Linked DNA regions of Homo sapiens: region 1 is linked to region 2. The links come from fine-mapping of genetic effects on gene expression. A gene starts in region 2. The other region holds a variant in brackets. All regions are shown on one strand. Distances are from middle to middle.

What was found. PIP is the estimated chance that this variant, and not a neighbour inherited with it, causes the effect.
Region 1: its variant is fine-mapped to the expression of RABGEF1 in whole blood (TOPMed, PIP above 0.99). The same link has a PIP of 0.9 or more in T cells.

The regions. Positions count from the first base shown.
Region 1 is chr7:66,442,582-66,458,335 of GRCh38, reverse strand. It overlaps the pseudogene RABGEF1P2. Among named protein-coding and RNA genes, the nearest start is that of LINC03011, 43 kb to the left of the region's middle. The variant CTT/T (reference allele first, on the strand shown) is at 8,437.
Region 2 is chr7:66,734,075-66,749,828 of GRCh38, reverse strand. RABGEF1 (RAB guanine nucleotide exchange factor 1) reads right to left here and starts at 9,096. Exons shown (of 9, transcript NM_014504.3): 1 at 9,037-9,096. RefSeq lists silencers at 8,873-9,012, 9,033-9,302 and enhancers at 8,753-9,419, 9,433-9,482.

The DNA of each region.
Region 1 (15,754 bases), 290 kb after region 2:
CCTCCATCTCCCAGGTTCATGCGATTCTCATGTCTCAGCTTCCCGAGTAGCTGAGATTACAGATGTCTGCCACCATGCCCAGCTAATTTTTGTATGTTTAATAGACTAGATGGGGTTTTGCCATGTTGGCCAGGCTGGTCTTGAACTCCTGCCCTCATGTGATCCACCTGCCTCGGCCTCCCAAAGTGCTGGGATTATAGGCATGAGCCACCATGCCTGGCCGAGGTTTTTTTTTTTTTTTTTTTTTTTAATCATAGAGTAAAATTGATTTGGGAGGAGTATAATGTTCTGCGAATTTTTTAATTTTATTAGATTTATGTAAACACCTCCACAATCAGAATACAGAACAGTTTCATCACCCCAAAAAACTTTCTTATGCTAATCCTTTATAGTCACATTCTTTCCTACCCCTAGTTCCTAAATGGAATCATACAGTATGTAAACTTTTAAGATGACTGCTATGGTCTGAATCTTTGTGTGTCCCCCAAATTCATATGTTGAGATTCTAAACCACAAGGTGATGCTACTAGGAGGTGGAGCCTTTGGGAGGTGATTAGTTCATGAAAGTGGAGCCCTCATGATTGGGATTAGTGCACCTGTAAGAGACGGCAGAGAGCCTAGCCATGTGAGGACACAGGGAGAAGGTACCTTCAGTGAACCACCAGACACCAACATCTGTTGACTTCTTGATCTTGAACTTGCCAGCTTCCTGAACTGTGAGAAATAAATTTCTGTTTTTTATAACCTACTCAGTTTATGGTATTTTGTTACTGCAGCCAGAAGGAACTAAGATTCTGGCTTCTATCAGCATAAAGCCTCTGAGATTCATCGAAGTTGTTGGGTGTACTAATACCTGTTGTTGTTGTTGTTTTCCTGAGTAGCATTCTGTTGTATGGAGGCACCATAGTTTGTTTATTCATTCACCCATTGAAGGATATTTTAGTTGTCATTTTTTTGTCATCACAAATATTGCTACTATAACTGTTTAAGTACCGAATTTTGAGTAAATAGCAGTTTTTATTTCTTTAGAGGAAATACCCAGGAGAGGGATTGCATGGTTGGATGGTCATTGTATGTATACATTTTTATGAAACCATAAAAGTGTTTTCTCTAGTGTCTGTACTATTTTGCATTCCACTAGGAAGGTATGAGGGTTTTAGTTGCTCTGCATCCCTGCTACCGCTTGGTATTGTCAGTATTTATTTTTTTTCTGAGGTGGGGTCTCACTCTGTCTCCCAGGCTGGAGGGCAGTGGTGTGATCTTGGCTTGCTGCAACTTCCACCTCCCAGGCTCAAGTGATGCTCCCACCTCAGACTACTGAGTAGCCGCGACCACAACCATGCACCACCATTGCTCCCTAATTTTTTTTGTATTTTTTTTGGTAGAAACAGGGTTTTGCCATGTTGCCCAGGCTGTGTCAGTATTTTCTATTTTAGCCATTCTAATAGATTTGAGTGATATTTCATGGTGGTTTTAATTTGCATTTCTCTAATGACTGAACAATGTTGAACAAGTATTCATATGCTTATTTGCCACCATGTCAATAACTGCAAGGGACCTGAATTTTGAGTTCTCCCTACTTAAATGTAGCAAGTTAGTCTCCATGGTTTCATGGATATTGGCCCAAGACATGAAACTCCTGGGTTGGAGGCAAAAGAGGAGGACACAGGTCACAGGACATCAGCAGAACCAGCTTCATGTCCACGTGGACTACCTTTGCCCTGTAAATTCCCTGTGGGCAACGACACAAGTAGGAAATCCAAGCTCAGGGAACTCAGATCTCATAAGGGGTGGCAAACAAATGTCTCAAACCTTTGATATGAAGGGAGACATTATATTTACTGTACTGGACAGTTAACAAATTGTCTTCTGCTGTGGAAGGAGCTATCATCTTTCTCTTGTAAGGATGTTCAATATACAAACATCTTTGACTGGACAGTATGTAGCAAAGGCTTCTCACGGAAATGTGGGACACCAGTATGTATATCTTCTTTAGTAAAGTGTCTGTTGAGATTTTTTGCTCATTTTTAAATTGGGTGGTTTGTTTTCTGACAACTGAGTTTTGAGAGTTCTTTATATATTCTGGGTATGTAAGTTCTTTGCCAAATAGGTGATTTGCAATTATTTTCTCCCATTCTGTAGCTTGTCTTTTCATTTTCTAAACAGTTATTCCCAGAGCAAAAGTGTTTTGTTGTGTTGCCAAGTTTGGTATACAGGTTCTGTGGGCTGTGGCTTTAATGTCAGTATATTGTTTAGAGTTTTGTAGTGCTGTTTCCATCTGTTTCATGTATGTGCTGATCTGAGACCTGCATAGTGGTCTCTCCGTTAGTTCCAATTTGGAAACCTTTGGTACGGAATAGCGTCAGATCCATGCATATGCAGCCTAAGGGTAAGCCTAGAAATTGCTTTCTTGAGTTCTCCTCAGCAATTTTTCCCACACTTTTTGTTCTCAAAGGGCTCATATTTTCTTTCTTTTGTCCAGAAAACTGTGGATTTAGTTACTCCACTCTGCCATGTCTTTCCACCACTGCCTGCACATTTGAGACCAAGGATAGAGATTGGGAAAAATTGATAGTTCTCCTGCCTCAGAGTTTGGCTCCTGCACTCTCATTTCAGCCATAGCTGCAGACAAAGCACACGATTGCTGGGCACTGTGGCTCAAGAGAAGGAGGAGATGGTAAGTGGGGGGATCCCCATATTCTCTCTGGCTGTTAGGATTTCCCTTTCACATGCCTGAAGCCCCAACTAGAAGAGCTTTCTCTGTGCTGTGGGGCCCATTTCCAGGTTGGCTGGTGGTATTGAATGGGAGAAAGTGGTAATCTCTTAGATGGCTGGGTGATACTTTCAATTCTGGTCTTCCCCACATCTCCATTTTGCTTTTCAGAATCCTCAAAAGTAGTGCACACTGTATACTGTCAGGTTTGATAGCTGGTGACTCTCCATCCGCACTTGGTAGCTTCGAGTTTTAAAAATCCATGATGATTTGACTTCCCACCTAACTTCTTTAGTTTACCTTCTGTCTATACTACATCATTCATATTTTACATTTGCCTTCCTGCTTCTGAGCTTTTTGTGAAAGGCATTCTTCCTGTCCAGAATATCCTTCCTCTTTCTGTCATGTTTCCAAGACCCTTTCAACACAAGGCTCTTTAAGGTCTATCACCAGCATCCCCAAGTGGTCTCTCTATACTCACTAGGTCAGAATTTGTATGTGTGTTACTCCCCAACAGTTTCCTAACACTTTCCCTTTTTCCGCGTTTTTCAGTCTGGCTGTACTTTTGGTTATGAGCTTCATGAGGGCAAGGACGTGTTCTATCCGTTGCATCACCAGTGCCATCTAGCTTAATTCTCTGCACACAGTTGGCACTTAGTAAATGTTTGAGTTAAATTAATGAGACCTCCAAGATATAGGGCCTAATTTTATCTGCACATGTGAGTCTCTTGAATGAATGCTGTAGAGTGCTGCTTTTTTACTGTGCTTCTTTGGCAGTTTGTTATTGTGGAGAAGAATGAGGACCATGTGGTTTCAGTTTGAAAGGAAATTGTTACATAGCGATTTACCATACAGCTGTGAGACTATGAACAAATGAGTTTAAATATTACACAGTGGAAAAGAAAACTGACTTTGGAAATTATGATGTTACTTCAATTTTTTTCTCTTCTCTTCTTTCTGGACAAGGCCTTGCTCTGTCACCCAGGCTGGGGTGCAGTGATGTGATCATAGCTCACTGCAGCCTCCATCTCCTGGAGAGGCGATCCTCCTGTCAGCCTCCCGAGTAGCTGGGACTACAGGCATACACCATCACACCCCACTAGTTTTTGTATTTTTTTGTAAAGATGGGGTCTTGCTGTGTTGCCCAGGCTGGTCCTGAACTCCTAGCCTCAAGTGATCCTCCCACCTTGGCCTCCCAAAGTGGCATGAGCCACTATGCCCATCGTGGGTTTGTTTTCTTTTACAGTAGCCATCCTAATGGGTATGAAGTGATATCTCATTGTGGTTTTGATTTGCATTTCCGTGATGATTAGTGATGTTGAGCATTTTTTCACATGTTTGTTGGCTGTTGGTATATCTTTGGAGAATTGTCTATTGAAGTCCTTTTCCCATTTGTTAACCAGATTATTATTATTATTTTTTTTGTTATTGGCTTGTAGGAGTTCCTTTATATTCTGGATATTAACCCCTTATTATATATGTGGTTTGCAGATATGTTCTCTCATTCTGTGTGTTGTTCCTTTTTACTCTGTCAGTTGGTTCCTGTGTTGTGCAGACATTTTAAATTTTGATGTAATTAATATATTTGTCTGATTTTGCTTTTGTTGCCTGTGCTTTTGGTGTCATATCCTAGAAGTCATTGCAAAATCCAGTGTTGGGAAGCTTTTCCCCTAAGTTTTCTAGTTTCCAGCCTTTACATTTAGGTATTTAATCCAATGTTAGCCCTTTCTTAATGGGTTCTGTGTATTTTCGGCAGGGAATAAGTCTTTAATATGACTGTTTCAGGAATTTACCATAGTTAACTTTTCCTTTTTCCTTCTTCCTTCCTCCTCTCTTTCCCTCCCTCATTCCCTCCCTCCTTCATTCCCTTCTTCCCTCTCTTACAGCCTGAAGATAATGGAAGCACTCACTTTTTCTTCATAATTGCTAAGACTTTAGTTAGTAGAATGATAATTCCTTTTCAACAGCACTTTGTCATTTGTTCATTGGTTAGCAGTAAGAAGATGAGCCTTAAGTCTGAACGCTGAGGAATTCATGTGCATCAGTCGGACCTCCTGTGCAAGAAAGGATGTGGTTACTACGGCAACCCTGACTGGCAGGGTTTCTGCTCCAAGTGCTGGAGGGAAGAGTACCACAAAGCTAGGCAGAAGGAGATTCAGGAGGACTGGGAGCTGGCGGAGTGGTAAAAGGACTTAACTAGGGGCGGTTGAACAGTGGCGTGACTGGATACATACTTCTGTCACCATCCAAATACATTTTTTTAAATTTCTGCTTTGACCTATCAGCAAGTCAGTTTAAAATTAAGGAAAAGGATGTTTTCCCCTCTTCTTCTCAGTCAACCTTTAATGAACAGCTTTGAGTATTTTCTTCATTTTTTGTATGTCTTAACTTCTGATTATATTCTTTGGGTTATGTTAATCTTGGTTCTCAAATGTAGACAATAAGCTCCTTGGAATGGAAGAATGGAGATAGGCATATTTCCTGGTGAAGATTAAATGAGCTAATAAATATGATGTACCCAGTGCAGGGCTTGCAAATGGCACTCATCAAGCATTATTTCCCTCATTCTTTTAATATATTCAGCGTGGCATCTAGCTCAGTGATAAAACACAGTAGTAGAAATCTGTTGACTTGTATACATAGTCCTTGCATTATAGAAATTTAACTTTTCCTTAAAAATTAGGTTACTCAAAGGCAGTTTGTATTATCTGGAAATATAATGATGTTAAAAATTAAATAATGGGCCAGGCGCAGTGGCTCATGCCTGTAATCCTAGCACTTTGGGAGGCTGAGGTGGGAGGATCACCTGAGGTCAGGAGTTTGAGACCAGCCTGACCAATATGGTGAAACCCCATCTCTACTAAAAATATTTAAAAAGTTAGCCAGGCGTGGTGGTGTGCACTTGTTATCTCAGCTACTTGGGAGGCTGAGGCAGGAGAATTGCTTGCACCCAGGTATCGGAGGTTGCAGTGAGCTGAGACTGTGCCACTGCACTCCAGCCTGGGCGACAGGGTGAGACTCTGTCTCAAAAAAAAAAAAATTAAATGATGGGATGGCTACTGAGCATAGGAACTAATAAAATGCCATGAATAATGTTAATTCTTTGCCAGAGCATTTTAGAAATTCTAAAACTGCTTCAACAGAAGAAAGGCAAATGGAATTCTGCCAACTCTTCTTGCTAGTTTTTTTGTTTTTTCATCCAGTCAGCCAATATTTGTTGAGTGACTACTTTGCTGGCACCTGTGGTGAGCTCAGAGAATTAGAAATTACACATTGCTTTCAGTGACTGTGGTCATCAAAGAGAAAATTTTAGCCAAGAACATGAATGATCTCCTCAGGGTTTCCACTGCATGCCTGATGTTGTCAGTAGCAGATCCTGTTTCAAAAACAGAGTAGAGGCCACTAGGCACGAACTGCCTCAGCTTACTCCCTTCGCCACATAAAAATGTACTAATACCTTTATATTAACTTCTTGTCCGTCCCAGAGAAAGAAGTGTCCCGATTCCATACTCAGACTTAGCACCTCCCCTGTGATTTTTGTTTCTATTTCTTACTGCTTTTAATTGTGACCCTGCTAAATCTCTTGGAAAGCTTGTGAAAGCAGTGATTGCTGGACCTTACCCACAGAGTCTCTGATTTTAGTAGTTTGGGAGTAAGACTAGAGAATTTGCATTTCTAACAAGTTGCCTGGTGATGGTGCTGCTGCTGTCTGGGGAACCACGCTTGGAGAACCACTGTCTTATAGATAGTGCTTGAGTTTTTTGTTTTGTTTTGAGACAGGGTCTTGCTCTGTCACCCCGGCTGGAGTACAGTGGTGCAATCTCAACTCACTGCATCCTCTGCTTCCTAGGCTCAAGTGATCCTCCTGCTTCAGCCTCCCAAGTAGCTAGGACTACAGGAGCATGCCACCACGCCCAGCTAATTTTTGTATTTTATGAAGAGACAGGGTTTCACCATGTTTCCCAGGCTGGTCTCAAACTCCTGAGCTCAAGTGATTCGGCTGCCTTGGCCTCCCAGTGTGCTGGGATTACAGGCGTGAGCCACCGCACCCGGCCTGTTTTTGGGATTTATTACAGATGGTTCACATGCAGCTAATCCAAACCCAAATTTATTGCTTTTATTTATTATTCTCCGCATTCTGAACATTTTCCTCCTAACCCTTCTCCTGAGTCAATTAATGGCATCATTGTTTACCAAGTTAGCTAAAAAACCTTGGTTTCATTCTTGATTTCTCTTTAACCTCCCTTGGCACCTACAATTTGACCAAGTTCCATTTGTTCCAACTTAGAAAAGTCTTTTGCATTTTATCTTTGCTCCTCTTCTTTTCCAGGTATTTATTTTCTTTTACTTGAACCTTTATAATATACGCTTAATTCCTGTCCGTGTCTCTAGTTTCTCTATCCTTCAAGTTGTTCACATAGCTACCTGCATGATCTTTCTAAAGCACAGATCTGACAACAATAACTTTTTGGACTTGCAGTTTTTCTTGCTTCCCCACCACATGATGAAATCCAGAATAGGCTTAGCAATGGGCTTAGCAGGCAAGATTCCCTACCCTCTGGTGCCTTCCTGTGTATCCAGCATCACAGTTCATCACACGCCCAGTGCTCTGGCTACATTCAGTTTATTGTGAAGCAAACCACAGGCTTGCACATTTGTAGTTCCTTCTTCCTGGAATGTCCTTTCACTTAGAATCCTAATCATCCTTATCAGTCAGGCGTGGTGGTGTGTGCCTGTAGTCTCAATAACTTGGGAGGCTGAGGGATGAGAATTGCTTGAACTTGGGAGGCAGAGGTTGTAGTGAGCTGAGATCGTGCCATTACACTCCAGGCTGGGTGATGGAGTGACACTCTGTCTCAAAAAACAAACAAACAAAAAAAAACAGAAACAAAAAAGGATCCTATTTGTCCTTTAAGACTCACCCCAAACATCACCGTTGTAAAGCCTCATCAGACTCCTCCAGCAGATTGTGTTGTTCTTTCCTGTGTTCTCATAGCACTCAATTTTTACTCTCTGATGTAGCAGCTGTCCCATTATATAGCAGTTGTTTACTTACCTTTTTGTTTGTTCCAAGCTTGAGCTTGTTAGGGAAAAGGACTAGACTTTATTTATTTCACTGAGCTTGTTGGGGAAAAGGACTAGACTTGATTTCTTTCATGTAACCCTAGACCAGTTGCTGAATGAGCATGAGAAGATGCCATTTGAAATCTGTAGTGCATGAAGAGCCGTCCATCCTGTAGCTATGTGAGACCTCAGACTGATTTGGCGTATTTAGTCTCTAGTTCTAAAATCTTTAGATCCTCCTGAATTAATGGAGTAATAACCTTCAGATACAGAGAAATCTTGGAGAATATCTAGATCATTCTAATCCTCTCTTGAATTGCAGACTCCAGCGGGAGGAAGAAGAGGCCTTTGCCAGCAGTCAGAGCAGCCAAGGGGCCCAATCCCTCACATTCTCCAAGTTTGAAGGAAAGAAAACCAACGAGAAGACCCGCAAGATTACCACAGTGAAGAAATCTTCAGTACGTCTTCCAGGGTCGGATCAAAGAAGGGTAATGTTGTGATACTCTTTTTTTTCTTCTCTGCCTGAGTGAGACACAGAGGAGATCCCCAATGCTCATAGGCTCAGCTTTGTAATTTCTGTCAACTTTTTGAGATCATCAGCTCAGATTTGACACTGAAATTGGGCTTGAGGGTCAGACAATATATGAAACCAATACTCT[CTT/T]TAGTTGAAAGACATTGTGTTTTAGAGAAATTTGTTTACTCTGTAGGAGGAATAAAGAGAATTGAAATAGATAGTTTTGTTTATGAAATTCATCCCCATCCAAATGACTATCTCTTTGGATGTTTTGGTTTTTGTGCCTTTATTTGTGGATCCTGGTTTGTTCTGTGGTAATACCCTCACTGTTCATAGCTTGTCAGAAATGGTGATTTCTAGGCTTGAAAGTCATCTGAGAGAGAGATTTTCTGCCCGAGAGCTTATTTGAGAGACAGCTTGTGTCTTGAGAACATATAGGAAAAGGCCCACATTGGGCTCCTGGAGGGATGAAAGTGAGCCATAGTAGCTATTTTCCAGTGCATGGATTTGTATGTAGGTGATCATATTCACCTGGCTTCTTAAAATGCCATATGACCAGCAAGAAGATTGTCACTTAAGTCACAGTTGTTCTATAATTGAGCAGACAAGCCAGTTGAATGGCCCAACGTGAAGCAAGAAAGAATCTCTGTGGTTAGGCCTCGGTCTCTGAAAATTTATGTTGGTACTCAGTTATACAGTTAATGTGAAATGATGAGGGAGACTGGGAACCAACACTGATGCTGTCAGAAGACCTGTTCTCTGGGAGCCCCATCACTTGCTCCCCAGTTCCTACCCTGGGGTAATTGTAATGAGGTCTCCCCTGGAGGCAGGGGAATGAATAATAAGACACTGTTACCCTTAAGACCCTTGCCAGTCTTCTAGGTTTTGTGACTTTTGCTGTTTCCTTTTGTTTTATTATAAGGAAATAAAAGGAAATATTGCTTACCAAAAACACAGTTCTCTTTAAGACATTGATACCAGGTGCAGTGGCTCATGCCTGGTAATCTCAGCACTTTGGGAGGACACGATGGATGGATCACCTGAGCTCGGGAGTTTGAGACCAGCCTGGGCAACATGGTGAAATCCCATGTCTACAAAAAATACAAAAATTCCCTGGGCACAGTGGCATGATTACATGATTAATTTGAAGTTGTTTCTTGGTTGGCTGCCAGTTTTAGCTATTTTGTCTCTACTAAAAAGGGGAAAAAAATTAGCACCTGCCAGAGATTAAATAAGAATGTATTCAGCTTATGATTTATTTATTAGGAGGTGAAATTTTCAGGTGGTTAGTAAGGTGACTTTGGAGTCACTCTTGATTTGAGTCCTAGCTTTGTCATTTACCAGCTTTGTGACCCTGGGCGGACTAACCAAGTCTTGTCCACACTGAGGGACAGTAATACCTATCAGAGACATTTGATGAGGATTCAGTTAGTTGACATATGTAAAGAGCTTAGCACAGTGCCCGACACACACAGTAGATCTCCAGTAAGTGTTAGCTTTTTTAAAATGCAAGTTATTCTTCTGATAGAATAATCTTGCAGGGAGCTCAAGGCCATTTATTATTAAGTTCCTTCATTCCTATTTAGCTTAAAGTCTGTTTCTTGATGATATGTAGTGAAATGGTAAGTATGATAACAGATGAAATAGTAAAAAAAATCATCGAATTATCAGCTCTAATAGCCTCATTTTGCAGATGACAATATGAAAGTCCATAAAGGTTAACTAATTTACCCAAGGTTGAACGATGAGTTTGTGCATGAGAACTCAGGTTTCCTAACTCCTGGGTCAATATTTTTCCATTATATTCCTTTATTCAATGTGTATACTTCAGAAACCCAGGTTATTTAATGTATATAATAAATAGTAAATATATATATATAATCAAGTTTCTGTTACTTAAGTACATAATTGTCATTTATATTCGCTGACTCTCCTTGGTGGTTTTAAAAACCTGTGTCCCAAAAGCCTCTGTACAGTGTGCATGATACTATGGAAAGAAGATTTACAATTTAGTGCAGAGTCTGTACTTTAAAAAGAAACCATTCTCGAGTTGGGTGCAGTGGCTTGTACCTACCTATAATCCCAGCTACTTGGAAGACTAAGGTAGGAGGATTACATGAGCCCAGGAGTTAGTGGCTGCAGTGAGCTGTGATTGTGCCACTGTATTCCAGCCTAGGCAGCAGAGTGAGACACCATCTTTGAAAAAATTAATTAGTTAAAAAAAGAAACAATCCAAGTGACTTTTATTTTAAAAATGTGTATGCAGAATGGTTTTTACCTTTGTTCTTGTTTCTCCCCACCCCGCATCTTTTTGAATGGTAGATTTGTACTTTCTATTTTTTGTTCTTTAGTTGCTTTTTGTCAGTAGAAAGCTTTGGGGATAAAGATCTTAAAGTATTTGAAAATTTATGTTAGAAGAGAAGATTCCATTATGTCTTTGTTTCACAGATCACTTAATATAAGTTAGCCAGGTAAATTTTGCATTTCACACTGATTACTTGTTTGGCCATCGTGTTTGGATAAGGTTAGCCTAAGTGCAGTTTTAATGTATTGGGTCTAGACTAGAAACAGACTTTTTGGATTTTGTATTCTTGATCTTCTTTAGTCCGTGATGCCCTTGCTCTTGGTATTTTGCTTGTTTCTGTTAGTAACATAAAGGAAAGCTTTTCGCCATACACAGCAGCTTGGTAGCAGACAAAATACAAATAACCTTCTAAGGAATTTGAAGAATATTTTCACATTTTTTTAGAGTTGGATTCACTTTCAGAGAAAGTAAATGGAATGTCTTGACTGTAAAGACTCAGTTAAAGTGTTTTAGTCTCCACAGTCATGGTGAGTGAGCTGTATAGAGGAAGTCATAGTGGTTGGCCAAGCTGAGATCACTTGCTTATACATTCCAAAGTGCCCTTTTCTTTCAGAACTCCTATAATCTTGTCATCCCAAGTAGAATCTTGTGTACCTCTTTCACAAACAGATCTAAAGACAGTGATCCTCCAAAGCGTATCTTTTCTTTTTTAGAGTTAAAATACCAATACCACCCAGACCTTAGATTCTAAATAGTATTATTCATTAAAGTGAGCCAGGGCTTCTTAGAGAAATGACTGATTCTGGGGCTGGGGCAGGGAAAAAAAGGCCCCTTCAATATTTTGGTTACATTTCAGAAGATCTAGAAGCCAGCTTGGAGGGGTTTCCACTGGCCAAGTCTGGGATAATTTGAGTGTCAAAATAAACAAGGACAATAAGGCCGGGCACGGTGGCTCACACCTGTCATCCCAGCACTTTGGGAGGCCAAGTTAGGCAGATCACCTAAGGTCGGGAGTTCGAGACCAGCCTGGCCAACATGGTGCAACCGCATCTCTGTCTTTTTTTTTTTTTTTTTGGCACAACCCCATCTCTACTAAAAATACCAAATTAGTCAGGTGTGGAGGTGTGTGCCTGTAATCCCAGCTACTTGGGAGGCAGAGTCAGGAGAATGGCTTGAACCCAGGAGGTGGAGATTGCAGTGAGCTGAGATCGTGCCACTGCACTCCAGCCTGGGCAACAAGCGAGACTCCGTCTTAAAAAAAAAATAAAGTGAAGAAATCAATAAATAAGGACAATAAATGAAGTATAACTGAACAAAATAATAATCCGTGTGTTAATTTAACTAGTAAAATAGAGAAATACAGCTGGCACGGGGGCTCACGCCTGTAATCCCAGTACTTTGGGAGGCCGAGGTGGGTGGATCACCTTTGCTTGGGAGTTCGAGACCAGCCTGACCAACGTGGAGAAACCCGTCTTTACTAAAAAAATACAAAATTAGCCAGGCGTGGTGGCAGATGCCTGCAATCCCAGCTACTGGGAGTCTGAGGCAGGAGACTCGTTTCAATCCGGGAGGCGGAGGTTGTGCTGAGCCGAGATCATGCCATTGCACTCCAGCCGGGGCAACGAGCAAGACTCCATCTCAAAAATAAAAAAAAAATAAAAAAAAATAGAGAAATACACAAATGAGAGGTTATAGTCATGTTAGTAGCAAAAATTGATTCAGGTAAAGTTTATCTGGGTGCTAAATCTTGGATGAGGGGAGGGAGTTTCCCAGGAAACAAGTTACGAACATGATCTCAAATTCACTGCCAATGAATTATTTATGTGTTTATTTTTCTTTTTTTCCTTTTTTTGTGGAGACGGGAGGTGGGTCTCGCTGTGTTGCCCAGGCTGGTCTTGAACTCCTGGCCTCAAGTGATCCCACCACTGTAGCCTCAAAGTGCTGGGATTACAGGTGTGAACCACCATGCCCAGCCAGATTATTTATTAATTATAAATAGAGAAATGGTAACTATAAAATGGGGATGTAGGAGGCAAGGATAGATGTCATGTGTGCTTCCAGACATGACACTTTGAGAACACAACATCATTTATGAAATATCTAAGCCGAAAATTTTTAACAACCTGAATCCAGTCATGAGGACACCCAATCTAAATGGCATTCAACAAGATACCTGGCCTGTGTTCTTCAGAAGTGTCATGCTGAGAGAAACAAAGGTTGGGAAAATTGTGAACTGCTCATTGTGAACAATTGAGAAACTTGGAATATGGATTTTCAATTGAGTAAAAGTATTTTATCAATGTAAATTTTCCTGAATTTGGTAGCTATCCTGTAAGGTACATAAAACAATGGCTTAATCCCTTTGCATTGCTATAGAAGAATACCTGAGGCTGGGTTACTTATAAAGGAAAGAGGTTCATTTGGCTCACAGTTCTGCAGGCTGTGGAAGAAGCATGGAGACAGGCCAGGTTCAGAGGCTCACGCCCGTAATCCCAACACTTTGGGAGGCCGAGACAGGCAGATCACTTGAGTCCAGGAGTTGGAGACCAGCCTGGCCAACATGGCAAAACCCTGTCTCTATTGAAAATACAAAAATTGGCCAGGCATGGTGGCCCATGCCTGTAATCCCTACTACTTAGGAGGCTGAGGCAGGAGTATCACTTGAACCTGGAAGGCAGAGGTTGCAGTGAGCCGAGAATGCGCCGGTGTACTCCCGCCTGGGCTGCAGAGTGTGAGACTCCTCAAAAAAAAAAAAAAAAAAGAGAGAGATTGGGCAATGGAAGGCTTGATAATCATGGTCTACTTGCTATTCCTGAAATACAAGCTTTGTTTCTGTATTAAAAACATAAGGTGCAGCTTGGTCCAGTGGCTCATGCTTGTAATTCCAGCATTTTGGAGACTGAGGCAGGAGGATCGCTTGATCCCAAGAGTTCAAGACCAGCCTGGGTAACATAGTGAGATTCCATCTCTTAAAAATAATAATAATTAGCCGGGCTAGTGCCTGTAGCCCCATCTACTCTGGAGGCTGAGGTCGGAGGATCATTTGAGCCTGGGAGGTTGAGGCTGCAGTGAGCTGTGATCGTGCCACTGTATTCCAGCCTGGGTGACAGAGCGAGACCCTGATTAAAAAAACAAACAAACAAACAAACAAAAACGCAAGGTGACTTTAAGTTGAAGAGCAAGCACTTGCCATTTGAGCCCTAGCCAAAACTATGAACTGTAATGTGGGTGAGGTTGTTCTTTTCCATATTTCCTTCTTCTTCACTTCTTTCACCTTACACACTGAATCCCTATTGGCTGTTCAAACATAACTAACCTCCTCCCTGTGTACCAAACACCTGAACTGTCTCTCACTTTCCCCTCTCTAATCCAAACTTGTGGCCTCTTAATAGGGGTTGATTTTTAGGAAGCTTAGAGAAAAACAACAAAGTGTTGATTTTAGTAACTTGTATGGTCATAACTAGCTAATAGAATTAATCTTCATTTACATTTTAAAAGGAGATTTTTTTTCTTTTTTAAGCAAAAGTGTCCTTTGGAAAAGTATGTGTGGGAGGGAAGCATGTTGTAAGCAAAGCAATAAAGGAAATGAGTAGGGTTTTCCTGTCTTTGACTGGTGTACAGACCTCCAAAGTCAGAGGGATTGGTGTTATTCTAAAGAGTCTTCAGTCCTCTCTGGCTTACTGAGGTGTAGTTATAGCATAGTCAACAGCTCAGGGTTTGGATTTAAGTGCACAGACCTGGGTTCAAATTCCAGTCTTTATAAGTGACTGCAACATTATTCAAGTTACTTAACATATTCAAGCCTCAGCTTCCTCATTTGTAAATATCATAAGTGTACTACCTGATAGACTTGTGAAGATTATACAAAATAGCATTGTAAAAGTACCTAGTGCATAATAGACATTACCTATATGTAAGTTTATACTACCATTATTATTTTGTCAGATGGAATATGTATTATGTTTTTATTGGGTTGAGTGTTCTGTCAATGTCAGGTAGGTCAAGTTGGTTAATAACATCATTCAAGTTTTCTGTCTTTACTGACTTTTTAAAAATATCTCTCTGTCAATTACTAAGCGAGGATTATTGAAATCTCCAAATATCATTGTGAATTTGTTTCTCCTTTCAGTTCTATCAAATTTTGTTTTATGTGTTTTGAAACAGTGTTATTAGTATATACAAATTTAGGATTGCTGTGTTTTCTTGAAGAATTAACCCCTTTTTTATGATGAGATACCTCTCTGTGTTCTTGATAATATGGTCCATGTTCTTAAGTTTACTTTGTCTAACATTGGTATAACCACTTAAGCTCTATTTCATTGTTTCAGAGTATCCTCTTCCTTTCATTAGTTTTTAACATATTTGTATCTTTATATTTAAAGTAAATTTCTTACAGACAACATGAAGTGAGGTCTTGTTTTTTAATCTAATACGATAATCTCTGACATTTAATCAGACTGTTTATAGCATTTGTAATTAATGTGATTTTTGATAAGGGAAGTTTTACCCCTGTCATCTTGCTCTTTGTGTTTATCTCATCTTGTCTTAGTTCCTTTTCTCCTCTTTTCTTGCCTTCTTTATGACCACACCTTTACCTCCACTATCAGCTTGTTAGCTACACCTCTTTGTTCTGTTTTGTTTTGTTTGGTTTTTATTACCGGTTGTTCTGGGCTTTACAGAATACATCTTTAACTTACTTACCTTCAAGTAATATTTATACCACTTTACAGAAAAAAATTTTTTTAATAATAGTATTATACGACTTTACATATAAGAATCTTAAACAGGATTCTTATATTTCTTCCTCCCGTCCTTCGTGCTGTGGTTCTACATGCTACTTGGTGGTTCTTTCTCTCATCTTGGGTAGTTTCCTCATATGCATGTGTAGTACTCAGCCACACTCAAGGGAACCCTCTGCAGATACCTGGAGCTTTTTCTGTTAGCCCTCTCCCCTCCATAGCGTTTGCATGATATTTTGCCATGCAAATTCTGGTCACATTGGCCTCCCTGAACTCCAAATGCTATCTCCTCAATTCAGCAATTCAGCTAAGCTGTGTTTGAGTGGCCTCTCCCTGTGCCAAGACTTTAAAACTCTCCCAGCAGTGAGCTGGGACACTGTAGGACAGACTGTGTTTGTTTCCTGTCTTTCAGGAGTTAA
Region 2 (15,754 bases):
CTAATTTTTTAAAATATTTTTAGTAGAGACGGGGTTTAACTGTGTTAGCCAGGATGGTCTCTATCTCCTGACCTCGTGATCCGCCCGCCTTGGCCTCCCAAAGTGCTGAGATTACAGGTGTGAGCCACCGTGCCTGGCCTGTTTGTTTGTTTTTAGAGATGGAGTCTTGCTTTGTTGCCCAGGCTAGAGTGTAGTGGCTATTTACAGACACAATCATAGTGCACTGCAGCCTCTAATACCTGACCTCCGGCAATCCTCCTGCCTCAGCCTCCCAAGTAGTTGGGACTACAGGTGAACAACACCTCGCAAAGTTCTGTTTTTTGTTTTTACACTTTGTATTTGCTTTCTTACAATATTCTATTCAAAACTTTGGTCACTAGCCCAACTCCTTTTTGAGGAACACATTTAGAAAACAATGTCAAAAGCTTTATGGATATACAATTAAGGAAACACAGCATTACATAACTATATTTAGGCAAGGGCAGTTTCACCCACTGTTTACTGAGTAAGAGTGAATAAGGATGGTCTCTCTCCATTAACACAATGCATGGCTCCTGCTAGCATTTGATAAATTTGAACTATTATTACTTGAAAGTGCAACTGTTCAGCTGGAGCAAAATACAGGCAATACAACTTACTGGACATTTCATCTGAGACGAGTAGATCTGGATCTGCTCCCATCTTCATATTTGGTATTCCCTCAGCCCATCTCTGTATGGAGGTGAGGTGGCTTTCATTCAAATATGTGCCCCTGTCAGACATACACTGGGTCATGCCACCACCAGGGCTTCAGTGGAGGAAGTCACGGTGAGCCTGAAGGCCTGATATCACCTACCAAGAGCCTCAGGGAACCCAGCCAGCAAAGCAGCAGCGGCCTTGCTCTTATGACATAAAACAGTTTTTGGAGAGTGCCCAGAACCAGGGTGACAGAAAACTCTGTGAGGGTTTCAATAAGGTGCTGAAACAGTGCAGACTTGCAAACAGATTGGTCTAATCAGAAAGTTCGAATTGGAGAAATGGAAAATCAGCTCTCATAACCAAGTGATTTAGCACAAAAATACAATTGATAGTGAAGGTATAAAGTGTAATCATCAGGTAAACCTCTCCTCTCTCATAGCGTCCCTGCTTCAGGACTGCAATGGAAAAGGAAATTCTTACTGTGTAGAATTTCATTAAGATGGCTGGGTAGATGTTTGTGTGGCACCCTTGAACTAGCCGTTATGATTTTATTCTTTGTTGAGTTAATTAGAATAAAGTGATTTTCCTCAAAAAACAAACAAACAAATATGTGCCCTTGTCAGACTGTTCCATCGTGATACCCCCACGATAAACCATGCCTGTTAAAACATATGGTTCCGTGATTCACCAACAACAGAAAACAGATGCATTCAAGGAACTTGTGAGGAAGCACAAACTCAAACCCCACTGCTGATAAATTCATTACAAAAGATCCACTGAGAAAGTATGGAAGGTAGGTGAAGAATGTGCAATCCACCTACTCATCTAGATAATCTAAAACAGATCCTTAAATCAGCCTAGAGATCTAAGTACTCGGATCACATTATTTTGCAGGCAAGAGAAATGCTTTTACGGAATGTTTTGATGTTATGTCACCGTCTTACACAAAAAGCCAATAAGGAGTTTTACTAACACACAAAGTAAAACTCGACACCCAGCCCTTTGAAACGCATGCTGGAAAGTCTTTGGGAATCCAAAGCAGAAATGATCTCTTTTGTCGTATGGTCACTGACCCATGTAACTGATTATATTTCTCTCTTAATTGGCTACTCAAAAGCAAAGCCAAATTTGTGGCCCTCTGCACTTAAGACTTCAGTCCAAGTGCTCTGTGTACACAGCTCATTCCTGTTTCCATCTTAATTTTCCCTCAGTCCTGCATTCCTCACCCACTTATCTGTTATGTTACCAACAGTATGTCGCACGTATCTTTGTAAGTCATTACAAACCCTTTCTGGAACAAGATGTGGAATAATGGAATAAGTAAATGATATGTTCCACTGAAAAAAATTATAGCACAATAAGAAAACATTTTCTTCGATTAATAAACATTTTCTATGTTCAATTTCTAATGGCATTTTCTTTTATGTGCTCCAAAGTACCTTCTAAAGGAAAAATGAAAGTGCTTAAAATTAGAAAATTCTAATTTTAAGAATTTAAATTTCCTCTGTACAACAGAGGAACTACAAAAATAAAACTTTCACTATGTATTTTTAACTGCAAAGCACACAGAAAATTATAAATATACCCCTATGTGAAAATCCCCCAAAAGCGATTTTTAATTTTAGCATACAGACCAAATCACCATAAATTCAATTACAGTTGTGTATTTATTTTGAATGGGAACTGAACAGACTAGCTTCAAATGTGGTTCATAAGGTCTTTGTACAATTCCTCCTGAGTTGTTCTGTGCCTAGCATAGAGGATGCTGCCAAACCATTCCTTAGGGTGAAACAGCAGAGAATTTAGAGCCCTCAAAACTCTTGTTACATTCCTGCTTCAGAGATTTCAGCAATCTGCTCACTGTTACTGGGGGAAAATTAAAAAGCTTAATACTCTCTCAGTGTGTAATATTTTACGCATTCATGAACACATACTTATTCTAACTTCTGACTTTTAACCACATTTAATTAATTGATCATAATAATGGTATTTGGCCCTCTTAATGACCATTGCCAAGAGAGCTATGCTACCAGAAACAAATTAAAATGTTCCACTAGGGCCGGGCACGGTAGCTCACACCTGTAATCCCAGCACTTTGGGAGGCCAAGGCAGGTGGATCACCTGAGGTCAGAAATTCGAGACCAGCCTGGCCAACATGGTGAAACCCCGTCTCTACTAAAAATAAAAAAATTAGCTCAGCATGGTGGCGCGTGCCTGTTAACACCAGCTACTTGGGAAGCTGAGGCAGGAGAATCACTTGAACCCAGGAGGCAGAGGTTGTAGTAAGCCAAGATCGCACTATTGCACTCCAGCCTGGGCAACAAGGCTGAAACTCAGTCTCACTCCAGCAAAAAAAAAAATTAGCCGGACGTGGTGGCAGGAGCCCATATTCCCAGCTACTCAGGTGGCTGAGGCACAAGAATCGCTTGAACCGGGGAGGTGGAAGTTGCAGTGAGTAGAGATCGTGCCACCACACTCCAGCCTGGGTGACAGAGCAAGACTCTGTTCTCAAAAAAAAAAAAAAAAAAAAAAGGTTATATTATAAATAAAAATTGCACTTCCTGCCGGGCACGGTGGCTCACGCCTGTAATCGCAGCACTTTGGGAGGCCGAGGCGGGTGGATCACGAGGTCAGGAGTTCGAGATCAGCCTGGCCAATATGGTGAAACCCCGTCTCTACTAAAAATACAAAAAAAATTAGCTGGGTATGGTGGTTAACTACTCGGGAGGCTGAGGCAGAAGAATCCTTGAACCCAGGAAGCAGAGGTTGCAGTGAGCCAAGATCGCGCCACTGCACTCCAGCCTGGGCAACAGAGCAAGACTCCGTCTCAAAAAGAAAAAAAGAAAAGTAAAAAAAAAAAATCACACTTCCTATCCCACTGACAGTAACTTCATTGAAAACAGGAATTTCACAGGAAACTTCAAAACAGCACCATAAAAGTATAATGTTTTCCTAAAGCATTTTAGGAGCTTTATCCAAACATCAAAGAGATAAACATAAGTTAAATAATATTAAGTGGGATAACTGTTATTTCACATGTTTACATATTGTAACAATAGTCCAGATCATTTAAACTCACTTCAGCCATGTGAAACAACACACATGATGTTTCTACAGTGCTCTATGAAAGAAGTGTACATTTAATAAGATTTTCAAGATGTTTGGCCTGTACTATGAAACTTCTTTTTATAGAGACAGGGTATCACTCTGTCACTCAGGCTGTAGTGCAGTGGCTTGATCACAGCTCACTGCAGCCTGGAACTCCTAGGCTCAAGCGATTCTCCCACTTTGGCCTCCCAAAGCACTGGTATTATAGGCATGAGCCACTGCACCAGCCTGAAACTCTTGGTTTTAGTGTGATCACTTTTTTTTTTTTTTTTTTGAGATAGAGTCTCACTCTGTTGCCCAAGCTGGAGTGCAGTGGCACAATCTCGGCTCATTGCAATTTCCGCCTCCCGGGATCAAGAGATTCTTGTGCCTCAGACTCCCGAGTAGCTGAGATCACAGGCGCACATCACCATGCCTGGCTAAGTTTTTTGCATTTTAGTAGAGACGGAGTTTTGCCATCTTGATCCAGGCTGGTCTCAAACTCCTGGCCTTAAGTGATCTGCCCACCTCAGCCTCCCAAAGTGTTGGGATTACAGGTGTGAGCCACCGCACCCAGCCTATGGTGTGATAACTTTACTGATGGGCTAAGAAGCCACTCACTTGGTACCATTTCTATTCTGAGTCACAGGTGTTAGGTTTACACAGGTATTTCCTACATTTGAGGGATAGGTCATCTCTGCTAGAGATGTTTCCTCTGCAGCCAATAAAAACCCACATGCCAGAAATTAAGCTCACACAGTCAAGACTGAAATTCTATGTCTCTAGCCAAAGACTCACATAAGTAAACAGAATTTTAGTTCTATATGTAGACATCACAATGAGTAAGTACTGATATCATTTTTTTTTTTTTTGAGATGGAGTCTCGCTCTGTCGCTCAGGCTGGAGTGCAGTGGCACAATCTCGGCTCACTGCAAGCTCCGCCTCCCGGGTTCACGCCATTCTCCTGCCTCAGCCTCCTGAGTAACTGAGACTACAGGCGCCTGCAACCATGCCCGGCTAATTTTTTGTATTTTTATTAGAGATGGGGTTTTACCATGTTAGCCAGGATGGTCTGGATCTCGTGACCTCATGATCCACCCGCCTCAGCTTCCCAAAGTGCTGGGATTACAGGCGTGAGCCACCGTGTGCGGCTGATAACATTTTTTTCACTGAAAACCAGCAACAAAAAATCAAAGAAATCAATGAGTTATTCTTATCAAATCAGTTAAGTACTCATTAAACACTTGTGTGCTCAATTGGGGTTGAGAAAGCAAAGAGAGAAATGAATGCAGAATTCCTGTTTACAAATTAGCCAGGTCAGACATCCTTATAGAAAGAAACAACTAGGAAATGAGTATACATTCACGTCAAGCATCTTTTTTTTTTTTTTTTTTTTGAGACGGAGTCTGGCTCTGTCGCCCAGGCTGGAGTGCAGTGGCGCCATCTCGGCTCACTGCAAGTTCCACCTCCCAGGTTCACGCCATTCTCCTGCCTCAGCCTCCCGAGTAGCTGGGACTACAGGCGCCTGCCACCATGCCCAGCTAATTTTTTGTATTTTTAGTAGAGACAGGGTTTCACCGTGTTAGCCAGGATGGTCTTGATCTCCTGACCTCGTGATCCGCCTGCCTCAGCCTCCCAAAGTACTGGGATTACAGGCGTGAGCCACTGCGCCCGGCTATCTTTTTTTTTTTTTTGTAGAGATGCAGTCTTGCTATTTTGCCCAGGCTGGTCTCCAACCCCTGACCTCAAGCAATCCTCCCACTTTGGCCTCCCAAAGTGCGAGGATTACAGGCGTGAGCCACCATTTCAAACATCTAATAAGCAGAAAAAATTAAAATACAAGATAGCAGTAATTAGCTGGGCGTGGTGGCGCGCGCCTATCTATGGTCAGTCCCAGCTACTCAGAAGGCTGAGGCACACAAATCGCTTGAATCCAGGAGGCAGAGGTTGCAGTGGCCAAGATCATGCCACTGCACTCCAGCCCAGTCACAGATCAAGACTCCGTCTTAAAAAAAAAAAAAAGAAAAGAAAAGAAAAGAAAAAAGCAAATAATCAAGCACTACACTGAAAACATTTATCCTTATCAGCTACATAGCAGCCTGTGTGTAAGAGTTACATAAAATTCCATTTTAGGGCCGGGTGCAGTGGCTCATGTTTGTAATCCCAACACTTTGGGAGGCCGAGGCTAGAGAATCACTTGAGGCCAGGGGTTGGAGAGCACCCTGGGAAACATACAAGGATTCCATCTCTACAAAAAAATTTAGCCCAAGTGTGGTGGCTCACACCTGTAATCCCAGCACTTTGGAATGCCGAGGAGGGCGGATCACGAGGTCAGGAGATTGAGACCATCCTGGCTGACACAGTGAAACCACATCTCTACTAAAAATAGAAAAAATTAGCCAGGCATGGTGGCGGGCATCTGTAGTCCCAGCTATTCAGGAGGCTGAGGCAGGAGAATGGCGTGAACCCAGGAGGGGGAGCTTGCAGTGAGCCGAGATCGCGCCACTGCACTCCAGCCTGGGCGACAGAGCCAGATTCCGTATCAAAAAAAGAAAAAAAAATTTAGCCAGGCAAGCTAAATTAGTAGGTGGCAGGCCTGTGGTCCCAGTTACTTGGGAGGCTGAGACAAGAGGATAGCTTAAGCATGGGTGGTGGAGGCTACAGTGAGCTGTGTTCCTGCCACTGCATTCCAGCCTGGGAGACAGGGAGAGAGAGAGAGCCTTTTTTTTTTTTTTAAATTTTTTTCTTTTTTTTGAGACGAGGTCTCGCTCTGTCGCCCAGGCTGGAGTGCATTGGTACAATCTTGGCTCACCACAACCTCCTAGAATTGCTAGGTTCAAGCAATTCTCCTACCTCAGCCTCCTGAGTAGCTAGCATTACGGCAGGCGCCATCACACCAAGCTAATTTTAGTGTTTTTAGTAGAGATGGGGTTTCACCATGTTGCTCAGGCTGGTCTCAAACTCCTGACCTCGTGATCCGCCCGCCTCGGCCTCCCAAAGTGCTGGGATTACAGGCGTGAGCCACCGCGCCTGGCCAGAGAGACCCATTTTAACCACACAAGGACCCAGCTAAAAAACTTCCCCTGGTTCTGTCACCATCAGAGGAAGCCTGAGCTCCTACATCTCTGTCCTGCACTTTTTCACTTTAGTAACGACCCTCCAGGCTCGGTAGCTGATGCCTGTAATTTCAGCACTTGGGACGCTTGAGGCAGGAAGATTGCTTGAGTGCAGGAGTTTGAGATCAGCCAGGGCAACACAGCAAGACAACATCTTTACAAAATATTTAAAAATCAGCTGGGTGTGGTGGCACGCATCTGCAGTCTTAGCTACTCGGGAGGCTGAGGTGGGAGGATCACTTCAGCACAGGCAGTTGAGACTTCAGTGACTCGTGATCGTGTCACTGTACTCCAGCCTGGGTGACAAAGTGAGACCCTCTCTCTCAATAAATAAATTAATAGGCACCTCCTTGTAGTTACTGGCCTCCTCTCCTTTGATTCCCCCCTCTCCCTCACTCCACCCTGTTAGTCTGAATGTTAGTCATTCTTCAAGACACATGCAGAAAGTATTCCCTGATCCCTTCCAGGCTCCACACCCAACAGCATGGCCTAAATGCCCGGCTCCTTCCTCGGTGCTCCATCTTAGCTCACATTCCTTACCACACTGTTTTGAAAGTATCTTGACTGTCCCTTCTCCTCAACTGGCTAACTTCTAGAGAGCAGAAACATGACTGCTTGGAAGGTCATTAAAAATTCAAATCCTGAACATTTCTTAATCCTGCGGATATGAATCAGTGACTCTTAAAAGCAAAATGTTATTTATCATTAAATATTAACAATATAATCACATTTTCTTGCATCTCTGGCAAGTTTCTTGGTACAACAATTTTAAGGAACAGACTCTTAGTTTTTTTTTTGAGATAGAGTCTAGCTCTGTCGCCCAGGCTGGAGTGCAGTGGCACGATTTCGGCTCACTGCAACCTCCGCCTCCCGGGTTCATGCCATTCTCCTGCCTCAGCCTCCAGAGTAGCTGGGACTACAGGTGCCCGCCACGATGCCCGGCAAATTTTCTTTTTCTTTTTTTTTTTTATTTGTAGTAGAGACGGGGTTTCACCGTGTTAGGGAGGATGGTCTCAAGCTCCTGACGTCATGATCCGCCTGCCTTGGCCTTCCAAATGCTGGGATTACAGACGTGAGCCACCGCACCCGGCCGGAACACACTCTTTAACAGCAGTTAAAGCCGCGCAATGGCTCACGCCTATAATCCCAACACTCTGGGAGGCCGAGGCGGGAGGATCACTTAAGGCCAGGAGTTTCACACCTGCCTGGGCAACACTGTGAGATCCCATGTCGAAAAAAATAATAAATAAAAACAAAGCAGTTCTAGGTTTAGAGGGGGGAAAGCAGCTCTCCAGGCCAAAAACCAACTCCCAAGGTGCTCCGGTAAACTCGTCCTGGGAAAATTTCCTACCTAATCTCAAAGGCAAAACGAGCCCACGGGCGCCCACGACACATTTCCCAACCGCAAGGATTGGTCACCCGCGCTGAGACACCGCCAGCTGCCTATGACCTAGCCTCCAAAGCGGCAGAGTCCCTCCCTCTCTCTCCCTAAACTGCCGTGATGGGCATCCCTCGGCTCTCCTCCCAGACGGTTCGGAAGCAGGGACTTCTGCTCCTAACCCCGGCCCCGCAGCCTCGCCCTCAGCCACGGGGTGGAAGTCAGGACCACAGGCTTCAAATCCCCTCCCAACTCCGGGACACTTCTGCCCCCTAGGGTGACGTGGGATCAAGTCCCCGCGCCCCTGCCGCGGCCGGGGGCTGTGGTCTGGGTCCGAGCGTCCCATACCAGCGCTTTCCGGGGAGGTTGTGGGAGGGGCCCCGTGCGACCACAGACGCTGCTTCGGAGCCAGCGGCCTGGACGGAAGGTGGGAGCCGGGGCGAGGGGAGCCGCCGGAGAGGGAGGCGGCCAGGAAATGCTCCGCGTCAGGCCGTCGGGGCTCGGCTGGCGCTGGAGATCCCGGCAACTAGCGTCTGGGACGGAGAGGCCGCACTCTGAGGATTAAGGGAGCCGAGGGCGGCCTGGAACGGGGAAGGCGGCGCTGACGGAGACGGAATGTGGGACGAAGGACAGCGGGAGGCACCGACGCGCAACTGCCCCAGCCGCGCGGATGGCACGGACCGACCGCCCTGCCACCCCCAGCCCGAGACGCCCCGCCGCCCCGCTCCTGTAGCTGAGAGCCGAGCAGCTCTCAGCCCCAGTCCGTCCGCTCCGTACCTCGCCCGCGTCTCCGCCGGCGTCCAAACCACCGCTCGCCCGCTTCGCCCGGGTAGGTCTGGGCTCCGCGGCCAGCTCCCGCCTCACACCCACCCTCCTGCTCGCCCCGCCCCCGGCACCGCCAGCGAACGCACGTTACGCGCGGCGCGTAAACGTCACTTCCGGGGCCTTTGACTCTGGACGGGAGGAAGTGCGAGTGGATCCAAAGGGTCGAGCGGAGTGGGGTACCGCCCTGACGCCCAAGAGCAAATGGAAGAGGGCGGCCTCCGGGGTAAAGGTGGGGCGCTGGGGAGCCCCGGAGAAACCGGCGTTTCCTAGTCTGTCGCTCAGTCCCTGCTTCCGGCTTCCGACGCGCAACAGCTGGAGGGCGACGCTGGCTCCGCGGCGACTCCTGGGGCTGCGGCCGCGGTGGTAGCGCGAATGGGAGGTGGAGCGGAGCTACTGCGCCGAGGGACGCTTCAGAAACTCTGTTTCAGTCCTTCGCGGATCCTAGGATGTGACAGGTGTTCGAGTTAAAAGGTCTTAAGGCGATCGGTTGATCCAAAAGCAGCTGAATCTTTAGGAGGCCCAGGCAGGAGGATCGCTTGAGTCCAGGAGTTCGAGACCAGCCTGGGCCACAGAGCAAGGTCACCATCTCTACAAAAGAAATTTTACAAATCAGCCGGACATGATGGCGGGCACCTGTGGTCCCAACTACCAGGGAGGCTGAGGTGGGAGGATCGCTTGATAGCCCAGGAAGTTGACGGTGCAGAGATCCCTCCACTGAACTCCAGGCCGGGTGACAGCAGAGCGAGATCCTGTCTCAAAAAAAACATAACCGACATCCAGAAGTGAAATAAATTAGCCAGTGTCACAAAGTATTAATGGTTGAGTCACAAATTGAATCCTGTTTACCTGATTCTTTACGTGATTCCCATGTAAGGAATGTTAAAAACAGTAAATACTAATTCCTCTGCGTCCTGAATGCCATGTATGGCGTAACGTGCAGTCACAGCAAGAAAAAAAAGAAAATACTATGCTGTGGCTGTGAGATAGACCTGGGTTAAAATCCCAGCTTTGCTAATTGTCGCTGTAGTGTTCTTGGACAGGTTGCGTAATTTTTCAGTCTATTTTTTTTTTTTTTTTTTTTTTTTTTGAGACTCTCACTCTGTCGCCCACACTGGAGTTCAGTCGTGCGATCTCGGCTTACTGCAACCTCCGCCTCCTAGGTTCAAGCGATTCTCCCACCTCAGCCACCCAAGTAGCTGGAATTACAGGCACCCGCCACCACGCCCAGCTCATATTTTTTTTTTTGTATTTTTAGTCGAGACAGGGTTTCACCATGTTGGCCAGGCTGGTTTTGAATCCTGACCTCAAGTGATCCGCCCACCTTGGCTTCCCAAAGTGCTAGGATTATAGGTGTGAGCTACTGCGCCCGGCCCGAGTTTCTCAGTCTTTATTCATTATTGGTAAAGTAGGGATTAACTGATTCGTTTCTCAGATTCTTCCTAAGTGCCTAATGTGTGCTACGCTGAGGGTACAACAGAGTATAAAACAAAAGTAAGGCCAGGCGCAGTGGCTCACGCCTGTAATCCTAGCACTTTGGGAAGCCGAGGCGGGCAGATCACCTGAGGTCGGGAGTTCAAGACCAGCCTGACCAACATGGAGAAACCCTGTCTCTACTAAAAATACAAAATTAGCCAGGCATGGTGGCACATGCCTGCAATCCCAGCAACTTGGGAGGCTGAGGCAGGAGAATCACTTGAGCCCGGGAAGCGGAGGTTGCAGTGAGCTGAGATTGCGCCATTGCACTCCAGCTTGGGCAACGAGTGAAACTCCTCCTCAAAAAACAAAACAAAACAAAAAAACACAAAGTACCTGTGCTGAGGAGGTGGAGGAGGGAATAAACAATAATTATTTACAGTAGTACCTTGGATGGTGGTAATTGCTATTACCAAAAGACAGAATAACATTTACTTTAAAGCTCTTAACTGACTTTTGTGATTACAGAATCAGGCAACACACCATTCTATAAACCATTCTGTGAAACAGAATGAGTGTTTCTTTTTTTTTTTTTTTTTTGAGTTAGAGTCTCACTCTGTTGCCCAGGCTGGAGCACAGTGGTGCAATCTCGGCGCACTCCAGCCTCCAACTCCCTGGCTCAAGTGATCCTTCTGCCTCCACCTCCCTAGTAGCTGGGATGATAGGTGTGTGCCAGCACACCCAGCTAGTTTTTGGGGTTTTTTTGTAGAGACAAGGTTTTGCCATGTCGCCCTGGCTGGTCTCGAACTCCTGGACTCAAGCAATCTGCCCACCCCGGCCTCCAAAAGTGCTGGGATTACAGGCATGAGCCTAGACCCCTGGGCCCAGAATGAGTGTTCAATGGGCTGAGCAGAAGAGGTTGGTGCTAAAGACAGAAAAGGCCTGAGGAAAGCAGTAACAAAAACTGAATATCATTTCAAAGTTTCTTTGTGAAGGTTAAGCTAGAGAGGACTGGCCGGGCATGGTGGCTCACGCCTGTAATCCCAGCACTTTGGGAGGCCAAGGCAGGCTGATCACCTGAGGTCAGGAGTTTGAGACCAGCCTGGCCAACATGGTGAAACGCCACCTCTACTAAAAATACAAAAATTAGCCAGGTGGTGGCCTGTACCTGTAATCCCAGCTACTCTGGAGGCCGAGGTGATAGGATCACATGAGCCTGGCAGGTTGAGGCTGCAGTGAGCAGTGATCATGCCACTACACTCCAGCCTGGTTGACAGAGCAAGACCCTGTCTCAAAAAAAAAAAAAAACAAAAAAAACAAAAAACACAACCAAGAAGCTTGCAGCTTTAAAATAGACCGGAGCGGCCTCATGAGGTGACCTGAATAAAAGATGAGGGAGCCAGCTGTGCTGCTATGCAAATATCTGGGCAAGAATGTTCTAGGCACCGAGCAGCAAGAGGGAAGACCCTCCTGACACCGCTAACCTGTTTAGCAGTAGCAGGCTGGGGCACGGTGGTAGGATCATGGCTCACTGCAGACTCCAACTCCTAGGCTCAACCAATCCTCCCACCTCAGGCTCACAAGTAGCTGTGACTACAGGCAAGTGCCACCATGCCTGGCTGCTATTTTGCTGTTGTTGAGAATGTGTTTTTCCACGTTTTAGTGTTAAGTGACAGGAACAACAGAGGTTTTTTAAAAAAGACTTTCCTTGGCAAAATTAAAGGAGAACAGCACTATATCAGTCTTTCATCTTTTTTTTAATTGTTTTAAACTACTGAAAGAAGTCTGGTAACCACTGCTACACACCATGCCTCCTTCCCATGGCAAGGCTGAGCCCCGAAATCCGGATCTAAAGGTACTCTCCATATTGTTTTAGACTGCCCCCCCCTACCCAGTCTCGTATTGCGTAGGATAGCCAGGTGTGGTGGCACACGCCTGTAGTCCCAGCTATTCAGGAGGCTGAGGGGAGAAGACTACTTGAGCCAGGAGATTAAGGATGTAGTGAGCCATGATGGCCCTGGTGAAGAACAGCCACTGCATTCCACCCTGGGCAATAGAGCAAGACCCTATCTCCAAAAAAACAGCCCCCAAGAAACAAAAAAACACCTAAAAATTAAATAAATACTGTAATACCAGCATTTTGGGAGGTCAAGGTGGGAGGATTGCCTAAAGCCAGGAGCTTGAGACCAGTCTCGGCAACACAGCAAGATTCTCTCTCTCTCTCTCTCTCTCTCTCTCGCTCTCGCTCTCTCTCTCTCACTCTCTCTCTCTCTCTCTCTCCCCCCTCATATATATATAATGATGATAATATCACCCACATCAAGTAAGAGCAGTGGAAGCCCCAGTGCATCAGCACATATATATATTTGTGTGCGTGTGTGTGTACGTGTGTGTGTCTGTATACGTAGGTGTCTGTGCATGTGTGTATAATTAGATAAATAAAAATAAAACTTTGTTTTGTTTTGTTTTTTGAGATGGAGTCTCGCTCTGTCGCCCTGGCTGGAGTGCAGTGGCGCAAACTTGGCTCACTGCAACTTCTGCCTCCTGGGTTCAAGCTATTCTCCTACCTCAGCTTCCTGAGTAGCTGGGATTACAGGCGCAAGCCACCACACCTGGCTAATTTTTGTATTTTTAGTAGAGATGGGGTTTCACCATGTTGTAGTGAGCTGGTCTCAAACTCGTGGCCTCAAGTGATCCACCTGCCTCACCCTCATCACCTGCCAAGTCCTACCCATTCTAACCCTGATAGCTCTTAAATCAGGTCTTTCCACCTCAACCTCATTATCACTGCTCTAGAGCTCAAGCCTTCAGTGTCCTTTCACTTCCTGAATTTACTGTCTTAGTGCTCTTGCTCACATTGTATTCTTTGCCCAAAATGCTCTTACCACTCCCCTTCTTCTTCTGTCTATAGGGCAAGTTAAATGGCCCCATATAGTGGTATAGGTTGTTCACTGCACTGAGACTATCCATCACCACCTCTACCTCATATGTGAAAGGACTTTTGCTAAAGGAACATTCCTGTCCTTGCTTTCCATCCTTGTTTCTCCTCTCTCAGTATTTTCTGCTGTGCTCCATAGTAATTTTCTGGGGATAGGGTTTATCTGAGAAAGTGTGTGCATGGGTGAAGACCTAGGGGGTCTGGTATTACCTATGACTAGGGGTCTTGAGTCTATCTAAGGCAGGAGTGAATGTCAGGATGCCCACTGAGGCTTTGTTTTTTGTCTTGTTTTTTTCCATCATCATCCCTTTCATTTCCTTTTCCTGTCTTACTGCATTGGCTAGGATCTCCAGTGCAATGCTAAATACAAGTTGTGACAGTGGACAGCAACCACCTCTACTCAATAATAAGGCTGATGTTTTATCAGCCTTATTATCAGCCATCTGATGTCTATATCTAGTTCTCAATTTGTTCTGAATGTGTGAGGGAGATACTACAGGCCTCTGTATTCGTTTGTTCTTGCACTGCTATAAAGAAATGCCTGAGACTGGGTGATTTATAAAGGAAAGAGGTTTAATTGGCTCACGCTTCTGGAGGCTGTACAGGAAGCATGGCTGGAGGGGCCTCTGGAAACTTACAATCATGGCAGAAGGATGAAGGAAAAGCAGGCACGTCTTCACATGGCCATAGCAAAGGGAAGAGAGAGAGAGGGGGAGGTGCTACACATTTTAAACCACCAGATCTCACAATAACTCACTCACCATCACGAGAACAGCACCAAAGGGGAAACCCCCCCCACAATGATCCTGTCACCTCTCACCAGGCCTCACCTCCAACTTTAGGGATTACAATTTGACATGAGATTTGGGCAGGGGCACAGAACCAAACCATTTCAACCTCCCAGAAGTCCATTTTACAGATGAGGAACTGTGAGGTAACTCACCCAAGGTCACACATTTATTAAGAGGCAAAGGTCTTATGTGGATCTCTGCCAGTTTGACTTCAAAGCCCATAATCTAAACTACTATGCTATAAAGTCTTCCATAAAACATAGTCTAAGGGAACAGTCATTTAATAGCGTGATGCTGGAGTGAGATCAGGGATACACACGGTTGGAATAGGCTACAAAGGAGCGATTATGTATAAGAACCAATCCTACCTAAAAATGCAAGCCATGATAACACAAGCACTACACAACAATGGGAAATGGGGCAGGCATTTGAGGGGGGAGGAAATTAGCTAACACTTTATATCTAACACTAAAATGACCTCCAGACAGATTATAAAGTTAAAACTTACATAAATAAGTAATACAATTCTAGACTAGCTAGTAGGAAATAAATTCTTTTTAGCCTCTGGAAAAGCATTCATAAATTTTCCTTAACTTCCTTAACGTTCCTGAAACTTCCTAAGGAGTTTTATAAATGTTCTAGCAAAAGAAGAAATCACACGGAAAAAGACAAACCTGTTTGGCCATGTGGTGAGCAGTTTTGTGGGGTGGCGAGGGGGTCCCCAGGAGCACCACTACTGCAGACATGTGCAGGAGTGACCAACCGAGCAGGAGGAAGCCACAGCGACCAGCAGTGTCCGTCATTTTTGAAGACCGAGAAATGACAACAATATCATGCACCCATTGGTCTCCCACAGGAGTGCTCCTTTGGGGCCAGGCACGGTGGCTCACACCTGTAATCCCAGCAGTTTAGGAGGCCAAGGTGGATGGATCACTTGAGGTCAGGAGTTCGAGACCAGCCTGGCCAACATGGCTCATCTCTACTAAAAAAAAAAAAAAAAAAAAATTAGCCAGGCATGGTGGCTCACGCCTGTAATCTCAGCACTTTGGGAGGCCAACATGGGCGGATCACTTGAGGTCAGGCATTCAAGACCAGCCTGGCCAACATAGCAAAACCCCATCTCTACTAAAAAAAATACAAAAATACAAATCATTGCTTACACTACCCTGGCAGGGAATGATGTCCAGCTTCATAGACGAGGAAACAGAGGCTCAAAGAGGGTGAGCATCTTACCCAGAATACACAGCTAGGAGGTGGTAGAGCTTAAATTCCAGCCCACACCATCCTATGCTCTAGGCTGCCCCAGAGCAGGCTTCCCTGGGGGCAGGAGCCGGGTTGCCTCCATCAGACACCGATAACCCGTGCCTCTCCTTGCCTCCCAGGTCCCATCAGCTGCCCCCGGACTCTGTGGTTTGGGGCATGGCTGTCCTGCCTGACAATGCGTCTAATCTTCAAAAATACCTCAAAAGTATGGAGTGGAGAAATGAATGAATGTGTCCCCAGGGCCCCGTTAGACCAATGTTGGACA